3 separate regions of the Homo sapiens genome follow, and regions 2 and 3 are each linked to region 1. Evidence: fine-mapped expression QTL. A gene starts in region 1. Each other region holds a variant in brackets. All regions are shown on one strand. Distances are between the middles of the regions. Region 1 holds the start of ZBTB11-AS1 (ZBTB11 antisense RNA 1). Region 2 has its middle 8.3 kb from the start of CEP97. Region 3 has its middle 120 kb from the start of ABI3BP.

Region 1 (2,765 bases):
CTAATGTCTACCCAAACCCATCCAAACAAAATGCACTGATTACTTCATTACCTCATAATTTAATCTTCGCATTTGTCTGTCCTTACAGGAATTTAATTCAGATATTGGTTTAAAGTGGAAAATAAATGGAAGAATTTGATTATCCAATAGTTCGTAAACGAATAAACTTGATGATGTTTATAAACCGAAAAGAACTTTAGAAACTATTCAGTAATTTCGTTATTCACAGACGAAGTAACCAAGATTTGAATGAAATAACTTTTCTGTAGCCATATTGGAGAGTGACAGCACTGTTCCTAACAAAATTTCTTAAATGGGACTATAAACTATTAACTAATTCTGACAGTTTGAATATTCATTAACTGTGGAGAGTGAAGATGGTTAAGAAGCCAAGGACACTTGCTATCCTCCCTTACAACTGGTTCCCAAGGAGTCAAGTAACTTCAGAGCTGTATTTTTTGACAATCAAAAAGTCACAGTAATCGTACCTTTTCTGCGTATATACAATGCTACACAGTTCCCAAACGCGTTTTTCACATCATTAGGGGAAAGATTATTAAAACATTCAGAGTTACGAATATCAAGCTGGGCGCCGTGGCTCATGCCTGAAATCCCAACACTTTGGGAGGCCGAGGCGGGAGGATGGCTTGAGGCCAGATGGAGACCAGCTTGGGGAACGAGGCGAGACCCGTGTCTACTCAAACACCCCGCCCCCGCAAAACCAAACAACAAAAACAGTAACTGATATCTTTTACATTTACTTCTTGTTCTTAAAAAAAAACGCTCAAGGCGATTTCTCAATCACTCCTTATCACTTCTGCAAATAATTGTATTATTCCTTATTTACGCAGCAGCGGCAAAATTTGAGGAACACTAGCGAATGTGTCCAGAGCAGCTCATACTCGCTCGCCAAAACCCAAGCGCAGCACTAAAGAAACGGGAGACCCGGCTTCGGGTGACTCGTCCCCCCTTCCAAACGTCAGCACAGTCGAAAACGTGCACCCCGCAGCCTCCACTGCCGCGAGCCACACGCCACCTCCAGAGGGCCGGGGCCTACAGCCTCAAGGGGCCGCCCAAGGAGGCGGACCTGGCGCAGCCCAGGCGTCCGGCCCCTCCCCGCGGCTGGCCCGGCCTCCGGGGAAGCCCCCTTGGTCCCACCCAGGGCCAGGGCCCGCCCCCAGCTTCGCCGGCCTCCTTCCTGTGGGAAGTGCGGCTCCTTTCGCGTCCCCCACCCTCTCGGCTCCGCCTGGCAGCAGCTCCGCCGCCCAGAGGCGTCCGAGACCCTCCGACTCGTGGGTACGCATAGGCCTCGCCAGCGAGCCTTGCCCAGGCAACGAGTCGCCAGCCCGCCCCCTCGCCGCGGGCTAGGTCTCACCTCGCCACCAGTACGTCTTGGACAAGTAGTGCCAGGTCTGATGCCGGGTGTGGTGAGTGCCGCCGGGACCCAGGTGCGCCGCCTCGATGAGGTCCCGGCGTCGCTCCGGCTGCAGCACCACCTCCAGCTCCGCGAAGGTCTTGCGGTGCCGCTGCCGCCGCTGGTAATACAGAGTCCCGCCGCGCACCACGTAGCAGGCGGCAGCTTTTCGGATTTTACGCTTGACATTGCCCTCGGTGCCCGGCGCATACGGCTCGCGCTCGTTCGTCAGGTAACGCAGGATGGCCCGGTAGCTTTCCTCGCTTGACATCGCGGACCGCGGCTCCCTGAGGGCGCCTGTCAGGGACAGGTGAGGAAAACGGCCCGCTACCTACGGGCGGCTGCAGGAGGAGCGGCGGCACCGTAGGGAGAAACGGCTGCGCCTTTGGCGAGCGCTCTTCGACGGCTCCCTTAGTCCGAAGGAAAAGCGGGCGAGTTGGTAACCAGGGGGAACTGCACTTCTCCAGCGCGCGGGATCCGCTGGCGACTGACAAAATGGCTGCTGCACCACCGGAAGTGACGCAAGGCAAGGGCGGGGACTGAGCCCTGATTGGAGCGCACTCTCGTTTTCTGGCTTGATGGAGCCGATCCAGTGACGTCAGGAATGCGGGTGGACATTTTGGAAGCGGGTAGGACCCTTCACTGCAGTTCGAGGGAGTCTTTAAGCAGACATCTTAAGTCCTGGCAGTTTCTCTTTTCATTTTTCCCTTTTCCACGCTTTCTAAGGAGCCACGTGTAGGGGGAGCTGGTGGACAGTTGAGAGTTCAGCCGAAACATCCAGAGGGTTAGGAGTCCGTTTTTACGTTTGAGACTCCCAACATCATAAAAGCATATTTTCAGGCTTCTGGAAAAATATTAGTCTCTTGACACGGGACCAGAGACAGCCCATTTACATGGAAATTTAGATTCCAGTTAACAGTTATAAAATTTTCAGTGCCTCCCTCAGTGATGAGTTATTGTTTCTAAACTTGCACCTGCTAGCTCCAGACTACTCAAGGAAGAGTCGAGATTCTTTTGGAATTATCAGCATTTATAGTCAATGTTATTGCGAGTGGAAAAGGGGGTCGGTAACACTATTTTAAGGCTTTATTTACATATATTTTTACACAAACGTAGGGGAAAAGGTTCTCCATTTTGCACCAAATATATATGAGGGTGCAAGAAGGGGAGCGGACTTGAGCTGCGTCTCCCAGTGCGTGCTGAGGATGCTAATACAGGTATTTAGCTGGTAATCCCGGAGCAGCGACCCCGGTCACCCTTTCCTGGGACGAATCTGCAGCGCTCACAGGGGCCCAGGGCTGACATCCCTCCTCGGGGACTGGGGTTGGACACTGTCGCCGCTTTGCTAAAG
Region 2 (2,765 bases), 40 kb after region 1:
CCCCTCCCACACCCTGTGCCGGGTTCAAGCGATTCTCCTGTCTCAGCCTCCCAAATAGCTGTGATTTTATTTTATTTTATTGAGGGAGGGTCTTGCTCTGTTGCCCAGGCTGGAGTGCAGTGGCCCGATCTCAGCTCACTGCAGCCTCAACTTCTGGGCTTAAGCAATCCTCCCACCTGCCTCATGAGTGGCTGGGGCTACAGGCACACACCACCATGCCCAGCTAGTTTTTGTATTTTTACTACAGATGGAGTTTTGCCATGTTGCCCGGGCTTGCATTCTTATTTTTAAGTAAGTCTTTGAAATCCAGTGTGTATTTTACACTTATAGCACATCTCATTTAGGACTAGCCACATTTCCAATGCTCAGTAGCCAAAAGTGGATATTAGCTACCATATTAGACAATGCATCTCTAAGGGGTGAGATTATCGAAACTTTCACTTTGTATTTTACATATTATTTTGTTTTCCTGAATGTTAAAAAAACCATATATTGCTCATACAGTCAGAAACCATAATAAAATAAAAAGTCAATTGCTCTGAAGTCAGAAAGAATTATGCTTTTGAGTAGGTGTTATACAATAGTAAAAACCAAACAGTAGAAAAGGTTATATACTGACAGTTTTATGTGTGTTCTCTGTGCACTTGTCTAGAAGATGGGCCACAATTTTTGTAGATTATGGTCTTTCAGAAGTGGTCAGTAAACCAAAAAGAAATTTAAAACCAAAGTCAAAGAATTTCAACAACAAAATTCCACAGAATTTAGACAGAGGGTTAATTACTTTGCCATGTTATAATGAGGTTCTATCCAGGCTTCTTGTCAGGAATTAGTGCTAGACAAATAGGAAGCTCTTTGAGGGAGAGAAAAACAACACAGGTTGGGGGACCAGTGAATAATTGCTTCCACTACCCCTCTAGAGGTAAACTACCAACCTATCATCCCTGAAACCAATGAGATTTCAGGAGGATGGACAACATTTTTTAAATTTTGAGACAGGATCTCACTCCGTCACCAAGGCTGAACTGCAATGGCATGATCACAGCTCATTGCAGCCTCAAACTCTGGCCTGAGCAATCCTCCCACCACAGCCTCCCCAGTAGCTGGGCCCACAGGCTTGTGCCACCATACTCGGCTAATTCATTTTAATTTTTGCAGAGACAGGATCTCTCTATATTGCCCAGGCTGGTCTTGAATTCCTGGGCTTAAGCGATCCCCTGCCTCGGCCTCCCAAAGTGCTAGAATTATAGGCATGGGCCACCGCATCCTGCCTAGTCAGAACATGCTTAAAGCAGGAATCTTAAATAGAATGCAATGTCAGCTGGGCACGGTGGCTCACGCCTGTAATGCTAGCACCTTGGGAGGCCGAGGCGAGCAGATCACTTGAGGCTAGGAATTGGAGACCAGCCTGGCCAACATGGTGAAGCCCCATTTCTACTGAAAATACAAAAAAAAAAAAAAATGGCTGGGAGTGGTGGCTCACACCTGTAGTCCCAGCTACTTTGGAGGCTGAAAGGAGGATCGCTTGAGCCTGGGAAGCGGAGGTTGCAGTGAGCCGAGATTGCGCCACTGCACTCCAGCCTG[G/A]GCGACAGAGGGAGACTGTCTCAAAAAAAAAAAAAAGAAAAAAGAATGCAATGTCAGGGCTAGAAAAAATGAAGAATTAACCAACTCAAGATGAGATTCTAAAATATTCATTTTATTTTCCCCCCTGTGTATCAGCTAAATATGAGGAAAAAAAGAGGTGGAAGTATAAATTAATTTCAAGAATATTTTTCAGGTTATTTAGGTAAACTAAATAAATAATAAAGTAAATAAACCAGAAGAAGTTGTGTTTTGTTTAAAAGAGTAGTAAAGAAATCCTTGACGTTTCTATTTCATCTCTTTTGAAGTTTTTCTGAAAGGCAGTAGAACTTTTATAAAAATGATTCATTATATTCTCAATTGAAAATTTAGGGGCTGGGGGCAGTGACTCATGCCTGTTATCCCAGCACTTTGGGAGGCTAAGGCGGGCGGATAACTTGAGGTCAGGAGTTAGAGACCAGCCTGGCCAACATGTTGAAACCCCATCTCTACTAAAAATACAAAAATTAGCTGGGTGTGGTGGCGCACAGCCTGTAATCCCAGCTACTCGGGAGGCTGAGGCAAGAGAATGGCTTGAACCTGGGGGGTGGGGACAGAGGCTGCAGTGAGCCGAGATTGCGCCATTGTACTCTAGCCTGGACAACAAGAGTGAAACTCCATCACAAAAAAAAAAAAAAAAAAAAATTAAAAGAATGCAAAATATCTCATTATTTTTTATGTTGTTTATATGTTGAAATGCTAATATGAATAAATAAAATATATTTTGTCTTTTTAAAATATGGCTATTAGCTAACTTAAAATTTCATATGAGGTACACCTATTTCTCTTGGACAGTGCCACCTTAGCAACAATTTAAAAATCAGTAAGTACCTTTTGCCGGGCGCGGTGGCTCATGCCTGTAATCCCAGCACTTTGGGAGGCCGAGGCGGGAGGATCACCTGAGGTTGGGAGTTCAAGACCAGCCTGACCAACGTGGTGAAAGCCCATCTCTACTGAAAATACAAAATTAGTCGGGCGTATTGTCGTATGCCTGTAATCCCAGCTACTCGCGAGGCGGAGGCAGGAGAATCGTTTGAACCTGGGAGGCAGAGGTTGTGGTGAGCCAAGATCACGCCATTGCACCCCAGCCTGGGCAACAAGACCAAAACTCTGTCTCAACGACAACAACAACAAAAAATCAGTACCTT
Region 3 (2,765 bases), 560 kb before region 1:
TTCTTTTGTTTGTTGAAAACCTTATTACTTTGACAGCTTGAGATTCTGGAGACATCACCTTTCTATGTACTTATTATTATTATTTTAAACAATCAACAGTTGTTAAAATAAACAGTTAAAATAAAAGTTATTATTTTAAACAATCAAAATGCTTTAATCAGAACTTGTATGAAGAGTAGATTTGATGGACAATGTAAGAGGAAGCTTTGGAGCCTGATGAGAGGGACTCAAGGGGACTTTTTTGAGTCTTTGAGATGATGTCTCTGCCCATGCCCAGCCTGAAGAAGGGAATTCTAAGAATCACCATTAATTAATATGCATTCCTACCCTACTTACATATGGCTCTGTCAATACCAGTGGTTGAGTCTGATTGTTTTAACCAACTGTTTTGAGCTTGTCTTAGAGCTCACCCCAATTAAAACTTGTACTCTTCAAGAGCATTGACATAGATCTTGGCCTTCTATTTCCATTTTGTCTCTGTTGTTTTATTACAAAGTAACAATTTCTACATACTGTGGCTTCTACAGGTAGGCTTTATTTGTATCTGTGTACACACACACACACACACACAGTATTTTTATAAATAATACCAATTTATAATCATCTGGAGATTAATTTGATAATACTTTATGGTTGAAATTCTCTTACCTATTACCCAGCAATTCTGCTCCTAAGGGAATCATGCATGTATACAAGAAAACTTAAAAGGATATTTAATGCAACATTGTTTGTAATGGCAAAAAATGGTAAACAACGTAATTGTTCATCAGCAGGTAAATAAATGTACTATAGATTATATATGCAATACAAATAGGATTCTGTGCAACAGTTAATATGAATAAATTGGATTTGAAAAATAAATATGATAAATCTCAAAAATATAGTATTGAGTATTAAAAAAACAGAAAAAAATAAAAGTGCTACTCCAGAGAACACATATATGATTAAAAAAAATAAAACGATCTTACTGATGATACAGAGAAAGATTTTGTGGTCTAGATAGAAGATAAAACCAGCCACAACATTTCCTTAAGCCAAAGCTGAATCCAGACCAAGGCCCTAACTATTCAATTCTATGAAGGCAGAGAGGTGAGGAAGCTGCAACAGAAAAGATGGAACATAGCAGAGGTTGGTTCATGAGGTTTGAGGAAAGAAGCTTTCTCCATAACATAAAAGTGCAAGGTGAAGCAGCAAGTGCTGATATAGAAGTTGTTTTTTATATTTGAGCAAAGAAAGTGCTTTCTTGAGATAGAATCTACTCCTGATGAAGATGCTACGAACATTGTTGAAATGACAACAAAGGATTTAAAATATTACATACATTTAGGGGGTAAAGCAGCAATTTTGAGAGGATTGACTCCAATTTTGAAAGAAGCTCTACTGTGGGTAAAATGCTATCAAAAGGATGGTGAAAACGTTCTGTTGATGGATGATGGTAATAGTTGCACAACAATATTAATGTATTCAATGCCACTAAACTATACACTTAAGTTGTAATGGTAAGTTTCATGCTATGTTTTACCACAATAAAAAATCGACTTGTGGTAATGTTAGATTTTGATCTGAACTGCTAAACATCCCTAACGTTGTCCTGTCAAGGGGAACCTCAGCCACCATGAAGCATATGACAAGAAGCCTCCACAAATATGAGCACTTCCCCATTTTACTGGCAAACAAGTGATGGGTCTTACTTGACCAGAATTC[T/G]CCCTTCTTCCACATAGTCTTACAGCTGTTTTAGGGGCAATGTCGAGACCTCATCTACAAGGATACCAGGGCACAGCCAAGGTTCCCTAGTGCCTGTTAACATGATGTTTCTCTTCCTGGTCAGGCCATATATTCCTTCTCTGGAAATTGGTAGGAAGGTACAGTATCTGTGAAGGTTATTCTGTATAATACTTTAGGATGCCTTAATTACTAGTTATAAATATGTTCTCTTGTATATTATGACTTGTTTGTCAGTCTGTACTTGCTCATGCCTTATTGCATGTCGTGTAAAGAAATTTTCATCTATCATCTACTTACTTCCTGTAAGGGGCACTCCTATTTGTTCATTCATTAATATGCTCTGCAGATTCCTTCCATTTTCATGCTCACTCTGTGACTGAGGGCCTAAGTAAGCCACATGGTGCATCAGCTTGGAGACAGATAAGAGGCAACCAGAATCCAGCTGTCAGCACTGTTGTTATTTACCCCAGTGACTATGCCTGTATTTCTCATGCTAGAGTTCTTCCTAGTGAGCGTCATTTTGCCTATCTCCAACAGTGAAAGCACTTGGCAAGTGCCTAACTGTCTTCTCTAAGTCTGAGTAAAATGGAGACAATTATTCTTCCTGGGGTTTTGACAATTAAATGAGAGAAAACATGGCATACAGTTAAACGATAAAGACATTCAATAAATGTTCTATGAGTATATATATGAGTTATGTATCAGACACTTTTTGTGTGCAAATTTTAATCCCTTAGTAACCCTATATGAAACATTTATCCTAGTTTTACTGATAAAGAATCTGAGGCTTGGAGAGGTTAAATGAAATATCCCAAGTTACACAGACTAATTTTACTTCAAGTCTGTGGAATTCCATGTTCCCAGTATCACATCATCCTTTACCAAAGAGCTAATGAACTGAGAAAGATAACACTGTTGGAAATATCTGAGATGTATTAAGACCAACAGTCTTTTAATACTATTCAAATAGGATAGCAAATTGATTTGCCTTCTACCAAGGTTATCTCAGTAATACCTAGCAAGAGATTTGGAGTTTTGTG

The links. PIP is the estimated chance that this variant, and not a neighbour inherited with it, causes the effect.
Region 2: its variant is fine-mapped to the expression of ZBTB11-AS1 in whole blood (TOPMed, PIP above 0.99).
Region 3: its variant is fine-mapped to the expression of ZBTB11-AS1 in uterus (GTEx, PIP above 0.99).

The regions. Positions count from the first base shown.
Region 1 is chr3:101,675,230-101,677,994 of GRCh38, forward strand. ZBTB11-AS1 (ZBTB11 antisense RNA 1) reads left to right here and starts at 1,201. Exons shown (of 1, transcript NR_024407.1): 1 at 1,201-2,765. ZBTB11 (zinc finger and BTB domain containing 11) reads right to left here and starts at 1,903. Exons shown (of 11, transcript NM_014415.4): 1 at 1,376-1,903. The coding sequence starts at 1,685. LOC124906262 (endogenous retrovirus group K member 5 Gag polyprotein) reads left to right here and starts at 1,216. Exons shown (of 3, transcript XM_047449415.1): 1 at 1,216-2,765. RefSeq lists a silencer at 955-1,324 and an enhancer at 1,041-1,595.
Region 2 is chr3:101,714,981-101,717,745 of GRCh38, forward strand. No RefSeq gene overlaps it. Among named protein-coding and RNA genes, the nearest start is that of CEP97, 8.3 kb to the right of the region's middle. The variant G/A (reference allele first, on the strand shown) is at 1,582.
Region 3 is chr3:101,116,019-101,118,783 of GRCh38, forward strand. No RefSeq gene overlaps it. Among named protein-coding and RNA genes, the nearest start is that of ABI3BP, 120 kb to the left of the region's middle. The variant T/G (reference allele first, on the strand shown) is at 1,705.